4 linked regions of the Homo sapiens genome follow. The protein of the gene in region 4 purifies or fractionates together with the protein of the main gene of each other region. This does not show direct contact. Each region holds a gene or a part of one and is shown on either strand. Other genes may lie near its edges.

The links. The genes of interacting proteins can lie anywhere in the genome.
Region 1: the proteins of TAGLN3 (region 4) and UFM1 fractionate together in Homo sapiens (co-fractionation; one large-scale study listed by BioGRID). This does not show direct contact.
Region 2: the proteins of TAGLN3 (region 4) and FKBP1B fractionate together in Homo sapiens (co-fractionation; one large-scale study listed by BioGRID). This does not show direct contact.
Region 3: the proteins of TAGLN3 (region 4) and CLIC4 fractionate together in Homo sapiens (co-fractionation; one large-scale study listed by BioGRID). This does not show direct contact.

Annotation. Positions count from the first base shown.
Region 1 is NC_000013.11:38,356,351-38,360,843, forward strand, and holds part of UFM1 (ubiquitin-fold modifier 1), read left to right. Parts: intron 1-1,742; coding exon 1,743-1,782; intron 1,783-2,950; coding exon 2,951-2,983; intron 2,984-3,690; coding exon of another isoform or gene 3,691-3,716; exon of another isoform or gene 3,717-4,360; coding exon 4,361-4,428; 3' UTR 4,429-4,493. UniProt on the Homo sapiens protein: Ubiquitin-like modifier which can be covalently attached via an isopeptide bond to lysine residues of substrate proteins as a monomer or a lysine-linked polymer.
Region 2 is NC_000002.12:24,056,241-24,060,733, reverse strand, and holds part of FKBP1B (peptidyl-prolyl cis-trans isomerase FKBP1B), read right to left. Parts: intron 1-4,493. UniProt on the Homo sapiens protein: Has the potential to contribute to the immunosuppressive and toxic effects of FK506 and rapamycin. PPIases accelerate the folding of proteins. It catalyzes the cis-trans isomerization of proline imidic peptide bonds in oligopeptides.
Region 3 is NC_000001.11:24,842,134-24,845,814, forward strand, and holds the end of CLIC4 (chloride intracellular channel protein 4), read left to right. Parts: 3' UTR 1-2,188; downstream 2,189-3,681. UniProt on the Homo sapiens protein: In the soluble state, catalyzes glutaredoxin-like thiol disulfide exchange reactions with reduced glutathione as electron donor. Can insert into membranes and form voltage-dependent multi-ion conductive channels.
Region 4 is NC_000003.12:111,997,094-112,002,673, forward strand, and holds the start of TAGLN3 (transgelin-3), read left to right. Parts: upstream 1-1,828; 5' UTR 1,829-2,021; intron 2,022-2,153; exon of another isoform or gene 2,154-2,327; 5' UTR 2,328-2,329; coding exon 2,330-2,509; intron 2,510-3,678; coding exon 3,679-3,853; intron 3,854-5,580.

The DNA.
Region 1 (4,493 bases), on a different chromosome or scaffold from region 4:
TTGAGTGTTTGATCAAATTCTTATTGAGATTACAGCCTGTGCAAAATATTTGTGATGCATTTTTAAGTTTACTTAAGTACACTTTGAAATTCTTTAAAAATTTTAAAATCTTTAAAAGGACACAAGAGTGTACCACATTGAGATTAAAATGTGTTTATTATTAATTTGTACATAATACTATAACAAATAATTGTTCTCAGGTATGTTTAAGGCCTTATTTTAAAAGTTGATTCTTCAATTTCTAATTTAAAATAAGCTTTTAGTTTTTCTCAACTATGTATATGTAATGATTATAGATGCCTAGAGTAGTGTTTCCCAGACAACTAGAACCACACACAAATTAGTACCACCAAAAAAAAAAAAAAAAAAACTTCATGAAGAACAGGGATTACTGGTCAAAAAATACGAGAAACACTTCATTTCTGTTAGGAGTATATTAAAGGCTTTTGAGAAGACCACTAGTTAAATGTGTTTTCCAAACTTGATCACAAAACTCAACTATAATATCTATAAAGTTAGTCCATAGCACAAACATGCTTAAATTTGTTGGATAAATGCATAAACTGTGAAGACATAAACACACTTTGGCAACTGCTGGTCTCTTTAAGAGATGGAATCTACCTTTTAGCTACCAATAAATTCCATACCACATTTCATTGATTTAAAAAACACATCTTTTTAAACATCTCTGAAATAGATCAGGGGAGGCTTGCTATCACTGTTGGCCAAATGGCTTTCACTTAATTGTCTAGGTAACATCATCTACACTTAATTATTATTTCCTAATGACATAATTGGACTATTGCAATCCTTGAGCTTTAAATCAGCAAATCATTACAGAGGAATGTAAGGAATACAAGCCTTGGTTGTTACCTGAAAATCTTCGGTAGGCACCTCCCATTAAACACAGAGAGCATCTGTTCAGATCTTGCAATTTCTATGGAGAAATTTTAGGAATAATCTCATCAGTTTATTTTGCATGTACTTTTTGCTGTTCAAGAGAATTATAAATGACAAAATTGATGGATAAGTCCTAAAGAGTAAACATTGATCTGGGCATAAATTGACAGTGGTTTTTCATTTTTGTAATGTATAATATAAGGTACACTTTTATAATTAATGGTGTCCTAAATACAATCAAAAGCACTGTTTATAATACAGGGTTTTTTTTTTACAGATAAAGCATATGATATAGTCCAGTTGACCCTTGAATAACGTGGGAGTTAGGGGTTCCAACCCCCTGTGCAGTTGAAAATCTGCATAAAACTTTTTTATTTCTCAAAAACTTTACTAATAGCCTACTGTTGACTGGAAGCCTTACTGATAACACAGACAGGCGATTAATATGTATTTTGTTATGTGTATTATATACTGTATTCTTACAATAACGTTAAAGAAAAAATACTAAGAAAATCATAACAGAAAGTATATTTACTATTCATTAAGTGGAAGTGGACCATGGGAAAGGTCTTAATCCTTGTCTTGTGTTGAATATACTGAGGAGAAGGAAGAGGAAGGGTTGGTCTTGCTGTCTCAGGAGTAGCGGAGGCAGAAGAAAATCTGCATATGTCATTCAAGGGTCAGCTGTACTTTCCTTGATAGTTTCACTTATTCTAAAAGATTAATCCTACTTTAGAATTATAGAATTGGTATTTGTACCCCATTCTTGCTAATTATCTTATAGTTTTGTGTGTGTGTGTGTGTGTGTATATATATATATATTTTTTTTTCCTTCTATTTAGTTTAAAGTTCCTGCTGCAACAAGTGCAATTATTACCAATGGTAAGAATTCACTATAAAATTATGTATTACCTCAAATTTATAGAAATGGTGTAAAAGGAACCAAATTAATTAAAATTAAATACAAAAAGCCCCAAGTATATGTATATCAACATAAATGATATACTTACTGGTAAACACTAAGTCAGGGTTATTGTTAATAATTAGCTCCTTTCATTTCTTTGTATATAGCTTTTGATATAGTATAGCACTTTATAATATCTTTTGTCCTTACCAGTTCATGCCAGATTATAACTGAAAATAACTTTATTTAGCAAGTTTTTTTTTTTATTAAGTAAAGTTGTTTGGTAAATGCTTTAGAATATAGAAAGTTAAGCAGGAATGTATCTTTGCTATACCTTTCCTGATAGAAAATTGTTTCTTGTAGGCTTGCAATAATGAGAATTTTATTCCGTTTTAGGTATATAATTAAAAATCTTAATATCTTGGAACACTGATAATCAATGATGATGGAATTAGTCTTGTGAGAAAATAGTGAAATAATAAGATGAGGAGTAAAGATTGCAGGGAGGGCTTAACTGTGTTTCAAGTATACAATGCAGTATTGATGAGTGCTGATGCGTTGCCCAAGTGCAGTTTGGACAGGAGATGGGCTTAATGTGCGTGATGTAACTTAGATAAGGTAGAATTTCTCACTCTAAAATATTCTGCATTCTGTCACATTGAAGTGTTTCTCTGTTGGAAAAAAGCTGGCTTACTACCTGGAAAGTTTTAGGTCATAACTTAGTAACGTGTTGAACTAAATGACTTTGTGAGCTCTCCCAGCCTTAAGATATTATGACCTAGAACAATACGAAGATGATTCATGGCATACCTAAGGGGCTTTTTAGTTTTTTGGAAGAAAGGACAAACATTATTTTTAATTCTATATGGCAAAATAGAATTAATAACCTATATTCCATAGAACTTACCAGGATCATTGCATTGACAGACGTTTTTGTCTAACCCAGCAATGTGTATGAATGCAGAATAATAGTAGATTTCAACAGATAATTTACCTGAAAGATTGTCACTCGTGTTCTTGGATTTAAAGTGTTTGGCTTATGTCTATATACACAACAGCACTATTTTGGCAAATCTCTTTCCTTGCTACTATTTAACCATTTTAGCTTTAGAAATAATGTATGTGATTTTACAACTTATTTTCTAGATGGAATAGGAATAAATCCTGCACAGACTGCTGGTGAGTATTTGAAAACTCATAGAGGAGTGGGTGGGGTTATATATGTCAATTGACACTGAATAGTTAAGCTATTCTAATTACACTTGACAGTATTTTAACATAATGGAGCTGTTTTTTAGGGATTATATACCAGTCTTTACCTGTGTGTCTGAGTAATAAGTTGTTTCATTGTGTATATTGATTGTAGATGTTTTTGGCTACAAGTAACAGAAAACCTAATAGTGGCTTAAGCATTAAGAGTATTTATTATATATAACAAAAAGTCTGTAGATAAGATTGCTTTCTAATTGGAGTATTTTTTGACCTACCTCTTAAGGTAGTTGTGAGATAGTGACTGTAAAGTGCTTCATAGCTTGGATTATTTATAGAAAGCATTCATTAAGTGCTATTATTTTTTTTAAATATAGTCATTTACATTTCAAGGGGCTGAGTCTACATTCAGATCTTCAAACTGTTAAATTTATACAGGTGATATATTGGTGTCCTGACCAGGAGACAGGGTAAAAGTAGTCTCATACTTTATAAAAAGAAGTCTAAAACTTTTTTAAAATTAGTTTTATATTTTTAAAATGTAATCTCTTAGGCTTATAATCTAAAGTTTTAAAATTAGGCATGCTTTAATGTAACCTCATTCTAGAGCAGTAGTTATTTTTAAATTATATTCTAAAGTATTTCTTTATTGTAACAAAATTATGTTGTTTTCACAGGCCTTGCAGTTGAAATTCAGCCATAAAGAAAATGAAGTGATTTAAAATTGCAAATTTTTGTTACTTCAGTAGTTGTTAATATATAATTTTATTAAAAAGGTTTATTGAAAATCGTGAGGCACTTTATTGTATGGATGCCTTTAAACTTAGTAGACAAAGGTTTCTTTTTTTCTTAATCGAGAAACTTTCAATATTTTACAGTAGTTTGAATTACTGCTAACTCTAACATACTGCTTGTTTTATTATCTTTAAAAATTGAATGTGCATATCCTTGATATGAAGAAAATCTCATCAGGCAATTGACCCCAAATATGTCAGGGTATCTAAATTTTTGTCACTTGTAGTAATTTACATTTTTTTTCCTGTCCTTAGATATATTATTGTGTATTGAAGGAAGTATTCATGATTAAATTATTCACAGTTACTTGATGAAAGTATTCGTCAGAGTTTTCATGGCTGGTGTTATTTTAAATTTTAAGCGTATGTTGGATTGTGAAGATAGGAGAATAGGAACAAGACTTAAAAAGCTTGGAATTGGGGTCTCATGATGCTTGAGCTTTTGTACCCATTTTACTGTTTACTAAATCATTTATTATATTTAATAATTGTCAGAATATTAAGATAACTTGATTTTTAGATATCTAACTTTATGTTTTGTTTGTTTGTATAGGAAATGTTTTTCTAAAACATGGTTCAGAACTGCGGATTATTCCTAGAGATCGTGTTGGAAGTTGTTAATATCTGCTACTTGGAACATACGATTGCCTTTCAGAATAAATATTGGTATTTTTTGTTGTTGTAAA
Region 2 (4,493 bases), on a different chromosome or scaffold from region 4:
ATGCCTTTTCTGCACACACCTGCTCCTCTTCCGATCCTCCCCATCCATCCTGTTGCCCAAGCAGGAAATCTGGACACTTCCTTCTGCCTCACCCCCACATACTGCCTATCACTAAGTCCTCCATATCTTTGGAATCCACCTATTTTCTTCATTTCTATTTTTATTTATTTATTTATTTATTTGAGACAGAATCTCAATTTGTCACCCAGGCTGGAGTGCAGTGGCACAATCTCGGCTCACTGCAACCTCCATCTCCTGGGTTCAATCGATTCTTCTGCCTCAGCCTCCCAGGTAGCTGGCATTACAGGCGCCCACCACCACACTCAGCTGATTTTTGTATTTTTAGTAGAAACAGGGTTTTGCCATATTGGCTAGGCTGGTCTTGAACTCCTGAACTGCAGGTGATCCACCCACCTTGGCCTCCCAAAGTGCTGGGATTACAAGCATGAGCCACTGTGCCTGGCCTTTTCTTTGTTTCTATTACCACGACCAAGTCACCAGCTTATCTCACCTGTACACAGGAACAACCTCCTAACTGGTCTTTTTGATCCTCTTTTACTCGCCTCCATTTCATTGTCCACTTGGCATCCAGACTGATTTTTTTTTTTCTTTAAACACAAATCTGATTCTATTACTCCCCTGCTCAAAATACTTCAATAGCTCCCCAGAGCAGAATCCAAATGCCTACCTTGCATACAGGCACTTCACAATCCGGCTCTGGCCTGCTTATAACCCTCTCTGTTCTCCCCTTCCTTCCCTTCCCTCTGTGTCCTTTTCAGGTCATACCTTTCTCAAATTCCTCTGCACTTTTCAACTTTTTTTTTTTTTTTTTTTTTTTTGAGTCGGAGTCTCCCTCTGTTGCCCAGGCTGGAGTGCAGTGGTGTGATCTCGGTTCACTGCAACCTCCGCCTCCCGGGTTCAAGGGATTCTCCTGCCTCAGCTTCCTGAGTAGCTGGGACTACAGGTACCTGCCACTATGCCTGCTAATTTTTTTATATTTTTAGTAGAGATGGGGTTTTGCTATGTTGGCCAGGCTGGTCTCGAACTCCTGACCTCAGGTGATCTGCCCACCTCAGCCTCCCAAAGTGCTGGGATTACAGGTGTGAGCTATCATGCCCAGCCAGACTTTTCAACTTTTTTATGCCACTTCCTCCACCTAAAGTTCTGTTTTCCCAGCTATTCCAGCCTCAGGTTGAGTCCTCGCATAAGGTTCCTAAGGTTTCCTAAGTTTCCCCCAAAAGGGAAAACCCAAAGGTTACATTATCCCCTACTGTAGGGAACAGTGTAAGGTGACCTAGCTGGTCAGAGGTGGCCTCCAGACTCTGTACTAAGAGGGCTGTTTGAAACCAGAACCCCCCCCCAGGTGCTGGTCCAGCAGTTCTGGTTCCCCCAGCCTCTGCTTCAGAAGCCTTGTCATCCTGATGTCCACATGTCATCTCAGTCCAGCAGCCCAAGGCCCAACAGCTATTCTCAATTCTTCTGTGACTCTGACTCAAAGATCAGACCTTCTGTAAATGATGCAGTTCCACGACTGCTCCCGGCAGTCCCTGGACCACCACAAAAGGCCATTTGGGACTAGAAAAAGACCTTGCTTGTACATCCAGAGACTGGGTTTTGACTTCACTCTGGCTCTAACTCATTGTGTGAGACTGGGCAAATCACTTCCTCTCCCAGGGCCTCAGATGTGTCATATTTAACATAGGAAGCAGGGCCAGCTTAGTGTAGGAGCATCTATGATGCTACTTCCTAATTCCTACAACTAAAATATATATTAGAGAAACAGTCTTATTTAACTACTTTCTGAGTAGAATACATTAAGCTTTTGCCCTGGGTACTAACTGAGGCAAAGAAGAAAACCCTTCTGGCTACACAGAGGTACATGCAGATGGATGCTAACAAGATCAAATACAATCGCATGCATTTGCTAAGGTTGCTAAGATATTCAAATACACAAAGATACTTGTGCATGCTCACATGCACTTATGCACTCACACTCAGGAGAAAAGCCCTGGTGGCCAAATAGATGCTAAGAAAATATTTACATACACAGATCTACATACATTCACACAGATACATACTTGTACAAATATGCACACAGATATGCAAACACACATGCACACATTCACACACTCCATTTATATACCGACTTTCCTTTCTCATTCCTTAGTTTCTTCAGGTTTCATGTGACTTAATCTACTTTGGATAAATAACTTCATTTATCTATTGCTACAAGTTAAGCCAAAACCATGCAGTCTAGAAACAGACCCACTTACATGGTGATTTGATTGGACAAAGATACCACTGCAATGCAGCAAATAAAGGTTTTTTTTTCTTGCATTAAGGTTGTTGAGTCAACAGTATATTCATATGGGGAAAAAATGAACTTTAACCCCTACCAAATCCACACACAAAAAAATCAATTCCAGATGAATCATAAACCTAAATATGAAAGATAGAATAATAAAGCTTCTACAAGATAACAAATAGAAGGATATCTTCATGACCTAGAGACAATTTTTTTTTTTTTTTTCCTGAGACAGAGTCTCATCTCTGTCACCCAGGCTGGAGTGCAGCGGCTCAATCTCAGCTCACTGCAACCTCCGCCTCCTGGGTTGTTCAAGTAATTCTCCTGTCTCAGCCTCCCGAGTAGCTGGGATTACAGGCATGCACCACCATGCCTGGCTAATTTTTGTATTTTTAGTAGAGACAGGGTTTCACCATGTTGGCAAGGCTGGTCTCGAACTCCTGACCTCAGGTGATCCACCTGCCTTGGCCTCCCAAAGTGCTGGGATTATAGGCAGGAGCCACCGCACCTGGCCTGACAGACAAAGATTTCTTAAACTGAACACAGAAAGCACTAACCATAAAGGGAAAGATTGATAAGTCAGACTTCATCAAAATTAGGAACTTCTGTTCAGGCCAGGTACAGTGGCTCACACCTGTAATACTAGCACTTTGGGAGGCCAAGGTAGGAGGATCACTTGAGCCCAGGAGTTTGAGACCATCCTGGGCAACATAGGGAGACCTTCCTCTCTACAGAAAAACTAAAAATTAGCCAGGTGGCCGGGCCCGGTGGCTCACGCCTGTAATCCCAGCACTTTGGGAGGCCGAGGCGAGCAGATCACCTGAGGTAGGGAGTTCGAGACCAGCCTGACCAACATGGAGAAACCCAGTCTCTACTAAAAATACAAAATTGTCCAGGCGTGGTGGCGCATGCCTGAAATCCCAGCTACTCGGAAGACTGAGGCAGGAGAATTGCTTGAACCTGGGAGGCAGAGGTTGTGGTGAGCTGAAATCGTGCCATTGCACTCCAGCCTGGGCAACGATAGCAAAACTCCATCACACACACACAAAAAAAAACCAAAAAAAAATTAGCCAGGCATGGTAGCATGTTCCTGTACTCCCAGCTACTTGGGAGGCTGACATGGGAGGAGTCCTTGAACCCAGGAGGTCAAGGCTGCAGTGAGCCATGATCCCTGAAGACTAGAGCCACTGAACTCCAGCCTGGGTAACAGAGTGAGATCCTATCTCAAAAATAAAAAAGAAAGAAAAAAATTTTAAAAAGAAAGAAAAGAAGAAAATATAAACTATAAAAAAAGAACTTCTGTTCAAAATATACTATTAAGAGAGTAAAAAGGCAAGCCATAGTGTGGGAGAAGATGTTTGGGATAGATATAACCAACAAAAGACTCATATCCAAAACATATACAAAACTCCTATAAATCAACAAGAAAAAGACAACCGGCCGGGCACCATGGCTTACACCTGTAATCCCAGTACTCTGGGAGGCCGAGGCAGGTGGATCACCTGAGGTCAGGAGTTTGAGACCAGCCTGGCCAACATGGCGAAACCCTGTCTCTACTAAAAACCTCAAAATTAGCCGGGCACGGTGGCACACACCTGTAATCCCAGCTACTCAGGAGGCTGAGGCAGGAGAATCACTTGAACCCGGGAAGTGTAGGTTGCAGGGAGTGAAGATTGCGCCATTGCACTCCAGCCTGAGCAACAAGAGTGAAACTCTGTCTCAAAAAAAGAAAAAGAAAAAGACAACCTAATTTTCTAAAATGGACAAAATTAGAGCAGTCTAAAGAGGATATCCAAATGGCCAGTAGGCACATGAAAAGGTGCTCAACTTCATTCATCATCAGGGAAACACAAATCAAAACCACAGTGACCAGCCTGGCCAACATGGTGAAATCCCATCTCTACAAAAAATACAAAAATTAGCTGGGTGTGGTGGTGCGCACCTGTAATCCCAGCTACTTGGGAGGTTGAGGCACAAGAATCGCTTGAACCCAGGAGGCGGGGTTGCAGTGAGCCAAGATCGCACCACTGCACTCCAGCCTTGGCAACAGAGTGAGACCTTGTCTCAAAAAAAAAAAACAAAAAAACCCACAATGAAATGGTACTGAACGCTCACCAGAGTAGGCCAAAACCAAAACAAAGCCTGGTGTGGTGGCTCATTCCTGTAATCCCAGCACTTTGAGAGGCCG
Region 3 (3,681 bases), on a different chromosome or scaffold from region 4:
GATCTCACTCATTGCACTTCCTGGAGTTAAATTTTCCAACAGCCATGTTGAGGAATAGCACTCTGCATGTTTTTGTTTTGTTTTTCGGGGTTTTTTTTAATTGAAGCCCTAAACCAGGAATTATTTGTGTTCTAACAGGAGGATGAACTTGCTGAAAATAAAACTTTGCTATGTATTTACTCTTTTTTAAAAGACAAAAGCAAAACCAGACTTTCTACGTACTACTCCAAAGACTGTGATTGTGACTATAATACATTTTTGGTAATTTTTTTATACCTAATTTGTATAGGAAGTGCTATTTCTCATAGGCTGTTTCTTGAAATTTTAAGTTTATTGCTTTAAAATGGCAGTGTTTCTCCCACTTTGATATGCTAACATTTAGTAAGCACTGGCTTTATGAAAGCGGCTTTTTATAAGTATACTGCATTTTTTGAGCCTATCATTAATTAGCTTAGTATGAAAGATAAGAAAATCTCCATGTTGTATCCATTTGGCTCAGGAAGATTCTTTGCCTTACCTTTCTTAGAACTCTTTATTGCTTATCAAAAGTTTGAGTACCCGCTTGGTTTTTTTTTGGTAATTAAATATTGTATGATTTATCTGGTTCAAGGAAGATGCACTATTCAGTTATCTATTGAGAAATTATTTTGCAGTGGTTTTAGTGGGTGAAAATGTCCCATCTGCACCAGTACACAGGCAGGCATTATCATTCTTCACCTACTTTTTAAATAGTGGCAACTTGGGATTCATTCTGGTGATTCTGAACCTTGCCTCATAGCTTAAAGTATAAAAAAGATTCAAGAGCAGTGAGGTTTGTTCTTTCCAGTGAATGGTGGACTGAGTGGTGCGAGGTGGAGGGCTAACAAGAGGAAAGAACTACATTCTTCAGAATACAGTGATGAAAATTCATTTTGAAACTCAAATATTTTCATTTTGGATATTCTCCTGTTTTTATTAAACCAGTGATTACACCTGGCCATCCCTCTAAATGTTCTAGGAAGGCATGTCTATTGTGATTTTGATGAAGACAGAATTATTTTTCTCTGTAGAAACACAGATACCACTTTATCAGGGAAGTTAGTCAAATGAAATGGAAATTGGTAAATGGACAAAAGCTAGCTAGTAAAAAGGACGACCCAGCAACATGCTTTAACCCCATTGTATGTTTGTGGAAAGAGCATAGTTTAACATCTTGAGAAATTTGGGACATAAAGTTTTCATGGTAGACAGTTCATGCAGTATATGAATTGCCATAATGGAAATAATCTGATTTTATTTTTACAACTAACATCCATTCCCCTTCATTTAAACACCTTTTGTGTTTTACTTCAGTGAGGAGATTGGAGTCTGAATGGATCTGTTTTCCAAGAGATTCTGAGAAATTTTTGTATTCAGCAGTTGGAAAGCTCTCTATTCTAGTTGATAAAACTTCCCTTTTTTGATGTAGATGCAGATATTCTATACAGTTCTGTTGTCTTTTACTAGGACTGTAAACTTTTGTGATAAAATTCAAATAAGATTTTATTTCTTGGTAATTTTGGCTTTCACAATTTATCTTTAAATCCTTGAGCAATCTGTATACAATTAAGAGATTTCTGACATTTATTCTTACACTAAATGGATCAACTCTAGGATTTAGGCATGTTAACTTCTGTTGTGTTTTGAATCTCTCCAGAGTTGCATGTAGATAGCATTTATTTCTGTGCCCTTAAACCCATTTAGAAAATAACTACAAAGTAAAAATGTAGAGGAAATAGAAATGTATTTTTTCATGAACATTTTGATACAAATTTCATCATTTAATGATTCACCAATTTCTTGCATTAATTTGAATTTAAGCATTTAATTCAAAGAGAGGGGAGCATCCATTATTGATACATGTGGGCTTTTAAAAACTCCATCCTTTATAAATAGTCAAGGTTTGGGCCACACAAAGTATATTTTTATCATGGAAAAATTTCAACTCCTCAAGCCGTAATGTTGAACAGAATTGGAGTATTTTCTTTATAATTTCTTGAACAGGCAAATGAAAGCTTATTATAGAATGCATGTATTTTCTTTTATCTTTGGAACATCAGCACCAGTATATTGCTGGCAGCTATTGTATTAAAAAATAAAGTATATTTTCACTATCATAAAGGATTCTTTTTTCCCCCCTCATGAAAATAAACAACAACTTGGGGTAAAAGTGTTTGAGACTACTATTTTTTTTTCTATGAGTGATTCAGCACATTTAATAGGTTAAAGGAGAAAAACCATAGGATCATTTCAATAGGTACAGAAAATAACTTGATTAAAATATTCATGCTACTCATTCTTAGCAAAATAGGTAACTTTTTTTTTAACCTGATAAAGACTTTTATTGAGAACCTATAGCAAATGAAACAGAAGCGATCTCGTTAAAGTCAAGAATAAGACAAGGTTGCCCTCTATCACAGCTACTATCCAGCTACTTTAACAGCTACTTTATTTAGAGATATCCTAGCCAATGCAGTAACATCAGTGAAAGGAATAAAGAATGGAAAAGAAGCAACAAAATGACTGCCCTTTGCAGGTAATGATGTTGATGGTGTGTATGTGTATAAAATCCAAAATAACTTACAAATACTAAAAATAATTCAGCTGGATTTCTAGTTGCAAGATCGAGGAACAAAATTTAATATAACTACTATATACAAATAGTAAGCACATTGAAAGCCAATAGAGAAATTGGTAACATTGGTTTTTTTCTGGAGGAGAATTGGGTGCCTGAGGTAAAGGGGTGGGAAATTATCAATGTATACTTTTAAGTTTTTAGAAATTGGTAAATATATTACCTATTCTAATAAACAAAAAGTGCTTTAAAAAACGAATAAAGATCCTAAGTGATTGAGGATCAAATCAAACAATGTGCAATTCCTAGCCAAGCATGGTGGCTCATACCTGTAATCCCAGCACTTAGGGAGGCCAAGGTGGGAGGATTACATGAGGCCAGGAGTTCAAAACCAGTCTGGGCAATACAGCAAGACCCTGTCTCTACAGGAAAAAAAAAAACAAAAAACAAACAAAAAAAAAAGCCAAGTGTGGTAGCATGAGTCTGTAGTCCTAGCTACTCGGGAGGCTGGGGAAGGAGGATCTCTTGAGCCCAGGAGTTTGAGGCTATAGTGAACTATGGTTGTGCCACTGTACTCCAGCCTGGGTGACAGAGCAAGACCCTGTATCTTTTTTTTTTTTAAGTGCAATTCTTTATGGAGAAAAGTACAAGACATTATTGAAAGGCCTGATAGAAATTTGTTCAATGGATAGGCATACCATATTTATGGATGGAGAGCTCAAAAGCATGAAAATTTAAATTCTGACTACTTATAAATATATTTGCCAACAAGATCCTAACAGGTGTTTTTGGAAACTAGATAAATGGATTCAAAAATTCATGTGGAAGAGTTATGCCCCCAAATAGCCAACATATATTTGAAGATGGGGAAAGAGAACTTGTTTGACAAGATACCAAGACTTAATAAAAACTTACAGTAATCGATGGGTAGGATATAGGTCACAGCAACACAATACTACTGCTGCAACAACCATAAAAAACTATTAAAACACCAAAATAGGCCAGGTGCGGTGGCTCAAATCCCAGCACTTTGGGAGGCCAAGGCAGGTGGAATCACCTGAGGTCAGGAGTTTGAGAGCAGCCTGGTA
Region 4 (5,580 bases):
TTTGCAAAACACAGTGTTTAAAAAAAGTCAAGCAAATGTACATCTTTAGAATTGTTTCAAGCTTTGCATATCAAACCAACAACTTCCTTAGAGCCATTCCAGCCATGGAAAAAATTATGTGGTTTCTGTTTGGGACTCCGTTCCCTTAGTCTAAGGTTGGAACTAGCCTTATGGCTCCTCCCCAAGATACCAATGATGACTTCCATAATTCTTCTGTCAATTTCCCTGCTCTAAGCTCTTCCCCTAAGCTCCAAGTGTCCCAACACAGTGCTGCTGTCTTTTGAGCTTCTTCAACTGATGATTCCATGCAGCATCAAGACCTGCCTTAGTCAGCCCTTCCCTTGTCTCTTCCTAAACCTACTGCTCTCCTGAATCTCCTAGTTTTCTGTTTTCAGAGGACTGTCTGCCAGGCCTTCAACGACTGACCGCTAAGTCTTTTTCAGGCAAACCACCCACATATCTCCTAAGTAATTAAATTTTCATTAGTCCAGGCATCAGCCGGTAGGAGATTTTTCTCAATACATGTATTATTTGAGGAGTCATTTCCTGCATAGCTTCTAATCAATTTCCCACAGGGACAAAGATCATCATCCCATGTACCCAGAATTGCTTTATTTAATATGCTTGAGTCAATTTATCAATCTGTTTTCAATGCAAGAATTGTATTTTATTCCTCCTCAGTCCAGTAGTTGGCATAAACACTCAGTAAATATCTGTTGAATGAAGAAATGAACCAAACGAAAAAAAATGTGGAATTTTTCTCATGAAAAACACCCAGAGAATTACACAACACCAATGAGACTCAATCTTTACCCACAAATGGCTTACAGTCTAGGAGGACAAACTGCCAAGCCCTTTAGCTGTTATAAAAATGTGGGGCCAACTTAGAGCTAATGGTTTCTCCTGAGTGCTTGTTTGCCCATGAGAAATATTCAGTTACTTCTGACAATATGTCGGTTGTGCCTTCACGGTCCTTACTTCAGATGAAGTCTTTACATTCTATCAAAACCTTTCACTCTAAGAGTTCTTAGTCGTTGAGTTTTGTTTAATTTATAAAACTTGCCGGGCGTGGTGGCTCATGCCTGTAATCCCAGAACTTTGGGAGGCCGAGGCAGTCAGATCACCTGAGGTCAGGAGTTCAAGACCAGCCTGACCAACGTGGCAAAACCCCATCTCCACTAAAAATACAAAAATTAGCCAGGCCTGGTGGCACACACCTGTAATCCTAGCTACCTGGGAGGCTGAGGCAGGAGAATCGCTTGAACCCAGGAGGCAGAGGTTGCAGCCAGCCGAGATTGTGCCACTGCACTCCAGCCTGGGCAACAGAGCGAGACTCTGTCTAAAAATATATAGTAAGAATTATAATAATAATTTATAAAACTTGTTCTTAGTGTCTTTCAGTTAAGAGTAGCATGAAAAAAATACCTCCCTTGAATAAGTCAAACTGAGGCACAACAGTTTCAGGATGGAAGTTTCTGGGTGAAGTTGGGCTGGCAGCTGAACAAGTAAATGATAGCAGCTCTCAGTCCCTCCCCTCCTGTCCTGCCAGACAGTTGTTACCTCAGGGCAGGGGGAAAGTAGCTTGGCTATTCCCGACAGATGGACAGTTGGTAGAACGGACCCTCCCACAGGCCCTCATCCCCTTGTGCAGCTGCTGGCCTCGTAGACAATCGGCTGTCTCCCCAGAAGAGGGAAAGAATTGTGCAGATGAGAAAGAGGCTCTCAGCGGGAGGGAGGCAGGCGGGCTTGATTGACACAGGAGAGGGCTGGCTTTTTGGAGGGCTCTTAGCAACGGCCCTGGTTGAGCCCCCTCAGCCATGAGAAAATCAAATCAATGTGCCATTCTTCCAGGCGCGAGGCAGCAGCGGCTGCAGTTCAACATGAAAGGAGGCTTCCTCCCTGCCTGCTAATTACCTGCTCTTCCCGATCTCATCGTTTCTGCCTTTGCAAAGTGCTACTGAGAAGGGGGAAGAAACGTCCGCCACCCATCCCCCTTGCTGCCTGGGGGTTCAGACTTGATTGTGAGTCCGTGTTATATCATCTGGTCTCATTGATAGGCGGGATAGGGAGGGGGATTCCAGCCCCCCTGGACCGGCCGGAGGTTTATTCTAGAGTTACTGGCGGGTAGCTGTGCTTTTCTTTCCCGTTTGTAGGTGAAACCCCATTGGCTTCATTGGCTCCTTGATTTAAACCACGCCCGGCTTTCTGCCCTCTTTGCTGCTGCTGGGCCAGGTTGCCCAGCCATATCCCAGCCCCGTCTGCAGGGAGCCGGAGGCTGCTGCTGCTGCTATTGTGTGGATGCCGCGCGTGTCTTCTCTTCTTTCCAGAGATGGCTAACAGGGGCCCGAGCTATGGCTTAAGCCGAGAGGTGCAGGAGAAGATCGAGCAGAAGTATGATGCGGACCTGGAGAACAAGCTGGTGGACTGGATCATCCTGCAGTGCGCCGAGGACATAGAGCACCCGCCCCCCGGCAGGGCCCATTTTCAGAAATGGTTAATGGACGGGACGGTAAGGCCGGCAGCGATCTCGGTTGCTGGGGCGGTGGGCAGGGAAACCCTCCAGGGCCCTTTCTTTTAACGTAAGGCTGCGGGAAGAGCTGCTGTTGCCAAGCTCTATGTCTCACCGGGAGGGGATGAGAATGCCTTTATTTCTTCAGGGTTGGAAGATTTGGGCTCCATGCACTATTCCCTAGCTAGCTTGGGGGTTCTCCACTCACCCTAGCATTACATCTCCCTTCTGAGTTGGCAAATTCGAAGCCCTTTTGATTTTTCTAATGAGAATAGAGATAAGTATGTCCTTGTAATTTCCCCAGCCTTCCTGGTGCATCAGCTCTTCTGGGGCCATTTCTTTCCCTAGGGGATCGTGTTGGTTACACAGTAAAACAAAGAAGGGAGGAGGGGGACTAGCCACCTTCACATTCTTGTGGGAGCCATGCACCCTGGAAGTGTTCAGTGTCTGTTTATTGAGTGGATGCGTTCTCATGAAACTGAAAGGAGTCCTTATTTGTTAACTGCATTTCTGACCAAATGCTCGTGTGTGTTTGAGGGTTTGAGGGCCGCAGGCTCTGTGATTCAAACAAGCCCATCCTTTCCTGCAGTCTGTGATTTACTGTTACATAACTGCTATCCAATGCTTCTGCTGGGTTGCCCAGAGCTTGGGTTATATATATATATCTGGGAAAAAGGTACCACATCCACTTCTTTTACACATTGTTAAAATATATGGGATGAGTAAATTGAAGCCTGCTTAATTTGCCTTTTGATAGAAGAAATAATATTAGACTCTATCATTTGAGCTCTGCCAACCTCAGGAGCCACTAAGTCATTCCTCCTTTGAAAGTCTAGAATCACGTCCTCATCACGTCACATCATTCCCTATCTGTAAACATCCTTTCCCTCATCCAGAAAAAGGAAGGGAGGAACAGGGAGGGAATGGCGCTCCCAGGCTACAGGAATCTCTGTAGTAAGGAGCAGCATTAGGAATGGGGTCCTCTGGGTCTTTGGGGCTTAGTATAGGAGCCTGGCTACACAGCCCAGAGCCCGTGCCTTCCTAGGGCCCATGACTTGCTCCTGCCCAAACTGGATGAGCAGTGTCCCACGTGAGCAGGATTCACTTCTCATTCTTGACCTGTAAATACAAAGGGAAACATTGATTCTGTCTCTCCCCTCCCTCTTCAGGTCCTGTGCAAGCTGATAAATAGTTTATACCCACCAGGACAAGAGCCCATACCCAAGATCTCAGAGTCAAAGATGGCTTTTAAGCAGATGGAGCAAATCTCCCAGTTCCTAAAAGCTGCGGAGACCTATGGTGTCAGAACCACCGACATCTTTCAGACGGTGGATCTATGGGAAGGTAAACAGCCCCCTGGCCTTTGGGATTGTTCTTTTCTTCTCTCCTTTGCCCCATCTCCTTGTAAAAACTGCTCACAGTGTTCTTCCCTGTGCCGATTGATGTGTGTAAGATGCTCTCAGCTGTTATCCTGGGGGCAGTGTTTGCCTTCCCCATTGTTATGTTCTATTAAAAGGAGGTACCCTCTTCTAATGGAACACACACCCTGAGGACACAGAGGGGATCTCAGCAACTAATGTAAACAGAAGCCTCAAGCTAGAGGAAGCTAACGGTGACATACTGCCTTTTATTCCTCTTACCACTCCCATAACAAATCACAGCTACCAGAGGAGAAGGGAGGCAGGGGGCCAGTGTGCTTCTTGCTCAACTGCAGCTTATAGACAAAGCCATCTGGGGCTATTTTGTCAATCTGAGAAATAGATAGCACTCCAACCTTTTGTTAAACCTTTATCTGGGAGCTTGGTGACTATGCCTTCCAGATATGCATTCTGCTCAGTGTGACAAGTGCTTGTTTCCTTCACATTTGTGAATTGACTTGCTGAGGAAATCTTACAAAAGCATAAAAATCAAATCACACTCCTGGATGTATTTAATGATCTGCCATTACTGGGGGAAATGATGTGAATGGAGACACTGCCAGAGAATTTGGGACCTATGGTCATGGTGTCGTTAATGTCCCCTTTAGCGAAAATGTGTATACCCAACCATATGACTGTGTTCCTTCTCCACTAGGCCTGCCTGAGGCACCAAGAGATACCAACTAGTCAGAGCAGGACTGTCAGATTGACTCTGCTCTCACATGCTCTTTGTCACTGGCTGTCATTAGTGGCCCAACCAACAGGATCCCCAGGGCAGTGACCCAAATGGCTCTGCTGAGAGTGAGAATGGGGTAGCTTTCCCCTGATGGAGAGACATGGTATTTTAAAGGGTATTCAGATGATGGTTGAAATAGATTTCTAGCAGAGGACCATTCTACTACTCACCACACTATGATTTATAAAGAAACAATTGCCTCCTTAATCCTCGGCGTCATGCAAAGAGCTGGCATTGCATGTTTCCCTCATAGGTGAGTGGTTAAAATCCTACGATGCTAATAAGTTTACCTTGTGGTTTGCCATTATTTAGAAACTCAGATATTCAAAACTGCAGGCCAGGCCAGGCTATGGATCTTGCTGTTGAGCCTCCAAATTCTCATGTAATTTCACAGTTGAGATTTGATCCTTGCTTCCTCGATCAAAACTATGATGATTTTTTCTAGCTAATACAGATAGCTACATAGCTACTGCTTATTGATGTTTTCCTATGCACAAGGCATTGTACAAGTGCTTTATTGCATAATGTCAGTCAGTTCTGCTAACAATCCTATGAGGTAAATGTTTTTTAATTTCCCCATTTCAAAGATGATGATACTGAAGCTTGCCCATGATTTCTTGTGTCCATGAGATAGCAGAGCCAGAATTCAAACCTGGGCTCTCTGACAGCAAAGAATAGAGCCTTAACTAGTCTGCCAACCCATTCTTGAGCCAGGAGGCTTAGTTTCCTTCACCTACACCGTGAGTGTGCTGTTGAATCATAATGGTGACTAGGTGATGAGGATGAAGAGGAGGTGGGGGAGGAGGTGAGGAGGAGGAAGATGACTCAGGACTGTGTAGGACAGAAGGATAGGAGAGTCAGTGTGAATGGAAGGGACCCGGGTGAGTCCCCCCCCCACCCCACAAAGTGCAGGAAGT